Linked DNA regions of Homo sapiens: region 2 is linked to region 1. The links come from fine-mapping of genetic effects on gene expression. A gene starts in region 1. The other region holds a variant in brackets. All regions are shown on one strand. Distances are from middle to middle.

The links. PIP is the estimated chance that this variant, and not a neighbour inherited with it, causes the effect.
Region 2: its variant is fine-mapped to the expression of LINC00847 in whole blood (TOPMed, PIP 0.93).

What each region holds. Positions count from the first base shown.
Region 1 is chr5:180,829,704-180,832,457 of GRCh38, reverse strand. LINC00847 (long intergenic non-protein coding RNA 847) reads right to left here and starts at 1,501. Exons shown (of 3, transcript NR_045679.1): 1 at 1,229-1,501. It overlaps HEIH (hepatocellular carcinoma up-regulated EZH2-associated long non-coding RNA), which reads left to right and starts at 840. Exons shown (of 1, transcript NR_045680.1): 1 at 840-2,504. It also overlaps a transcript of ZFP62 not described here. RefSeq lists silencers at 126-295, 736-865, 1,226-1,275.
Region 2 is chr5:180,805,177-180,808,184 of GRCh38, reverse strand. It overlaps a transcript of MGAT1 not described here. Among named protein-coding and RNA genes, the nearest start is that of MGAT1, 3.9 kb to the right of the region's middle. The variant G/C (reference allele first, on the strand shown) is at 1,430.

The DNA of each region.
Region 1 (2,754 bases):
TGGAAGCCCAGGCGCAGTGGCTCATGCCTGTAATCTCAGAACTTTGGGAGACCAAGGCAGGAGGACTGCTGGGGCACAGGAGTTTCAGACCAGCCTGGGCAACATAGTGAAACCCCATCTCTACAAAAAATGCAAAAATTAGCCAGGCATGCTGGTGCACCCCTGTAGTCCCGGCTACCTGGGAGGCTGAGGTGGAAGGTTCACTTGAGTCCAGGAAGGTTGAGGCTGCAGTGAGCCATGATTACGCCACTGCACTCCAGCCTGGGTGACAGAACAGACTGTCTCAAAGAAAAAAAGAAATTAGAAGTGAATCTCACTGGGCTAAAATCAAGGAGCCAGCAAGAGTTGTGTTTTTTGTTTTTTGTTTTGAGATGGAGTCTCGCTCTTGTCACCCAGGCTGGAGTGCAATGGTGCGATCTCAGCTCACTGCAACGTCTGCCTCCCAGGTTCAAGCGATTCTGGGGAGGGGAGGAGGAGGGAAGCAAGGAGAGAGGAACGCAGGGAGCAGAGCCTGACCTGGTCACAGGGGTCTGGGAAAGACAGAGGCTTTGTTAGAGCCGGCAGCTGAGGGCCGAGGCCGAGCAGGGGTTAGGCCAGCACAGGACGAAAAGGAAGAAAGTTCCAGGTGGAGTCTGGTGGAGAAAGACCGACCTGGAAGGCACCAGCATGTGCACGTGGCAACTGAGGTCGAGGACGTGCCTGAGAGAGAGGAGGAAGGTGCCCTGCGGACCGGGTAGGGTGCGGAGGTCGGGAATGGAGAACGGTCGTTGGGCAGGTCCGGGTACCCGTAGCCAGAACCACCCGGGTGTGCGCAGCTCGGCCAGGCCCCGCCTCCCGGCGTCCCCGCCCCCTGCTGGGCCTCTCTCCGCAGCCGCGAGACCCGCGCTTGGCGCATAGGCCGGTTCTAATTTACAAGAACACCGCGGCCTGAGGCCGGAGAGTCCCTTCAACCCGGGAGGCGGCGGCTGCAGGGAGCCGAGACGGCGCCATTGCCCTCCAGCCTGGGCAAAAAGAGCGAAACTCCGTCTCAAAAAAAAAAAAACATGGCCGAAACCAGGAAGCTGCGCGATGGCGCCACGGCCCCTCTTCTCCCGGCCTGTGTCCGGAAGGTTTCCCTCCGAGGCGCCCCGGCTCCCGCAAGCGGAGGAGAGGGCGGGACGTGCCGGGGCCGGAGCTCAGAGGCCCTGGGGCCGCTCTGCTCTCCCGCCATCGCAAGGGCGGCGCTGACCTGAGGCCTCCCCGCAAAGGTCCCCGAGGCGGCGGCGGCGGCGGGCTGTGAGAACCGCAGAAGAACGCTGGGCGCGCAGCGACCCGTCCACCCCCGCGAGGAGAGACTTCCACAGAGGCAGCGTTTCCACAGCCCAAAGCCACGTTTCTAGGGTGATGCAGCCCCAGTAAGTTCCTGGCGGGGAAGCTCACGGCTGTCAAAAGAACTCTTCGCTCCAGCCGGCGCACGAAGGGGAGGAGGGCAGGAGGCTGCCGCCCGCACAGGTCATCTGATCACGTCGCCCGCCCTAGTCTGCTTTTGTGAATCTCCACTTTGTTCAACCCCCACCCGCCGTCTCTCCCTCCCTGCGCCTTCCCTCTAACCTTAAAGACCCAGCTACCTCTACGCAAATGGTAGCTACCTCTGCGCAGGTGGAAGTTGAGTTCGGTTCACGCGGGACCCTCTTCCCTGTGGCAAGCTGCTGAAGGAGACCTGCTGTTACTGCTTTAGCTGCTGTTCTGCTTAATCTCAGACAGCTGGAAGGTAGTATTCCGCCCTCGCCCAGCCACCCGAGTAAATGAGAATGATGACTGACTGAGACCCTGATGGTGGTGGCTTAGGCTTAATCTCAGACAGCTGGAAGGTAGTATTCCGCCCTCACCCAGCCACCCGAGTAAATGAGAATGATGACTGACTGAGACCCTGATGGTGGTGGCTTAGGCAAGATGAACGTCTGAAATGGAGGCCCAGGGCTGCCACGATGGCTCTGTAGTCATCAGGGAGGGAGCTCCTTTTATCTTGTTACCTACTCCCCTCTTGTGCCCCTTTCTTCCCTTGATCTAAGAAGGTTGCTCCGGATCTCGCCATCTGGCCTGCGTTCAATCAGCAGAAGCTTCCTGGAGGAGCAGGAGGAGGCACTGTGCTCGCATCACATACCAGTGGCCAGAAGTTGGCTTCAGGGAAGCTCAGGAAATAGGATGCGAGAAGCCATGAGACCTCCCCAAACTCTGCAGTAACAGAGTCAACAAGACAATGGCTTAAAGATGGAGAGACCAGTTGATCGGTCACACAAGCTGTTCCACGATAATTCTTGTGTCAGAAGGGGAGGCTGACTACCAGGACCACTGGCCCCACTTCCAGCCCCTCCATTCTGAGTACACTTCAGAGGGCTCTGGCAGGGTGAGGGGGTCTTGGTGGTGCCACAGAGAGTAAAGGTCTAGCACACCCATTGTGGAGATATTTCATGGGGACAACCCAGTGACTTCACTTGAAGTAAAGTGGGATTTTCCAACCTTGAGATTCTTATTTTCTTTGGTATGCGTGTGGAAGAAGTATGAAGGTGGGGGTTGGGAGGGAGAGCAAATGAGCTGTGTGTATGAGGAGCTGGGGCCTGGCTCTTGACAATATCACCCACCCCCACCCCAGGCTTTCCTTGGGGCAGAAAGACTATGGCCGGGGCTTTCAGTGTCGGCTCCGAGGTATAGAGGTATAACCAGTGCTTTTGGCTAAGTCACGTCACTGATGAGCTTCTCTTTCCACCTTGGCAA
Region 2 (3,008 bases), 24 kb after region 1:
CCTACTTCTATAAGGGGAGCTTAGCCCATGAAAGCTCGGGAAAAGAGCAGAGGAACAGAACACAGGTTTGGGGGTCAGGAAGGAGTACTTGTGTTCTAGCTTTGACTTTTTGAGTCAGTGTACAACCCTACACAGGCCATGTTCTCTTCACCTACAAAATGGGGGAAAACTGACTTTCCAGGTCCCTTACAAGTTGTTACGAGGAGCAAATGAAACAAGGATTTTGAAAAGTATCCAGGGCCGTGTACACAGGAAACAATAACATCGATGTTGCTCTACGTGCCTTAAAAGCACAGAAACAACTCTGAGTCAGGAGTTCTGTTTTCTTCTTGAAATAGTGTGCTGGCAACAGCCTAAGAAGATGTCCTTAGTGAAAAGCCTGCCCCTGAATGTGTTTCATCATCTTGTTGGTAAACAGTACTTGGGATCATCAAGTTGTAGAACAGGTGAATAGATCCAAGGAGAACTTGGATTGAAGGAGTCTTGCAGATACTGCATTGGCCCTTATGGCTCTCCAGTCCAATTTCAGTGTGCCCCTTTGAGGTAGCTGATTAAAGAGGGGGTGGAAGGATGCTTAAGCCTTGAGGGCAGGTGTCTGGCTAGGCACTTTTCTTGGAGTGAGTGGTGGTCTTTACCTTCCTGTGCCATATGCTAGTTATCTCTCCCGCTCCTTAAGATGACGTTTTTTTCCAGACATCTCTTCGCCCTTTGTATTTTCTCAGGCTGTATTCCCTATAAAAGCAGCCCTGTTTGTCTTTATCTTCTCACTTCCTGTCTGCTCCCTCCTTCAATTCCAATTTACCTGTGCCAAGATGCCTGCTTTTCCCAGGGACAACACACAGCAGAAAGGAGGGGTAGAGCACAGTGTTGGGAATTTTGAGAGACAGTAGGGTATGGTGGCCTGGGCAAAGGGCAGGAGGCCTGGCTTCTGGCATGTCTCTGCCTCTCCCTAGCTCAGTAACACCTAGGCCTCACATGTTCCTTGAGGATGGGTGACAGTGAGGTCATCTGCAAACTGAAAATCCTGTACTTATGCCTTACTTTCCATGTTAAATTTTTTTCTTCCATCCCCTTCCCCAGTCTTTCCTTTTTTGCCACAGGAGTTTTCCTCACTCCCTCCAGCGGCTTGAGAGGTGGGCAGTGGCCTGGGTGGAGCTGCTGCTCCCGAGCTGTACTTTCTCCTCTGGTCTGGTGCCTGGGGCAGCCCCTTTGAGGCCAGGCTGCTCCTTTATAAGGTGTGGGTCTCAAGATGGGTGTACCACCTTCCCCAGCTTCACCCAGCAAATTTCTGTTGCCAGTCTTTGCTTAGACACAGGGGTCACAGTGATCCCTCGGGGATACGTGATGCCACGGTGCCTCCTCAGCCATCTCTGGTATCCCAGGTACCAGGGAGTTGCGTATTTGCGTAATGCTTCTATCACGTGATCCA[G/C]TCAATCTGTTTTGTCTGTTTTCCCTCACCACTTTGTTGTGAGGAGAACAGAGCAGGGATTCTTTTCCCAGTTTGAGGGGAAGCTACGGAAGCCCTGAGTGGGAAGGGTTTGCCTAAGGGTAGAGCGGTAGGCACTGAAATCACCTCCCAGTGCTGTGCTGTTTCCACAGCATCTGACCTGACCAGGCCATCTGGGTTCTGCTGCAAACCTCCAGGGAGAGAAGCTCTGTGCCCTGCCAGACAGCCTCTCTGGTAGAACGTTTCCTCCTTAGAGTGAGCAAGCATTCCTCTCCCTGACCTTCCCACCCTCCTGCCCTGCACCTGACCCTTCCATGAGACAGTCCCTTCAAGACAACCATTGGCTTTTTCACATGGGCACCAGGATGCCAAGGCATAGCACTCAGCAGGTGTCAGGCTACTTAGCCAGGAGCAGTGATAGACTTAACCAGACTGTGTGTGCATTTTTTTTTTGAGACAGAGTCTTGCTCTGTCGCCAGGCTGGAGTGCAGTGGTGCGATCTCGGCTCACTGAAACCTCCACCTCCTGGGTTCAAGCTATTCCCCTGCCTCAGCCTCCCAAGTAGCTGGGACTACAGGCACACGCCACCACGCCCGGCTAATTTTTTGTATTTTAGTAGAGATGAGGTTTCACCATGTTGGCCAGGATGGTCTCAATCTCCTGACCTTGTGATCTGTCTGCCTTAGCTTCCCAAAGTGCTGGGATTATAGGCATGAGCCACGGTGCCCGGCCGTGTGTGTATTTTAACTCAATTAATTATTTATATCCTTCTTTATTCCAAAAAGAATTGTAGGTGGCTAACCAAAAGTTACATTTCACAGACATTGTTTAGTGATTATTATGTTAATCTTTCCTCTTTGACCTGGATGAGATGAATTTCTGGGTCTCCATTGTGGGGTGAGGGAGAGGGGCAAGCAGAGATATTAGGAGGCAGGGAGAAGGGAAACAAAACACTGATTTAAAAAATTTGCTTTTACTTTTTTTTTTTGAGATGGAATCTCACTCTGTCACCCAGGCTGGAGTGCAGTGGCATGGTCTCTGCTCACTGCAACCTCCGCTTCCCAGGTTCAAGCAATTCTCCTGCCTCAGCCTCCCGAGTAGCTGGGACTACAGGTGCATGCCACCACACTTGGCTAATTTTTGTATTTTTAGTAGAGACGATGTTTCACTATGTTGGCCAGGCTGGTCTCAAACTCCTGACCTCGTGATCCGCCTGCGTTGGTCTCCTAAAGTGCTGGGATTACAGGCGTGAGCCACTGCGCCCAGCCTGCTTTTACTTTTACTGATGTTTTCAAGCCAACATATGTTTTAATTTAAGGGCATGAATTCTTTCCAAATTGTAAAAAGTGTCAGGGATCTTGGGCATGGTTTATGGGAGGGCAGTTTCCTGGAACAGTTTTCACTTCCTTTTCATCTTTTCAGTTCTCTTTTGTCAGTGGTGGAGTGGGCAGGGGAGAGTATTGTTCCTCTGCCTAATCTTGTGACTGTTTATCCTCCTGGATAATCTGGTCTAATCTTGTGACTGTTTATCCTCCTGTTTTTTCCTTTTGCACATAATCCA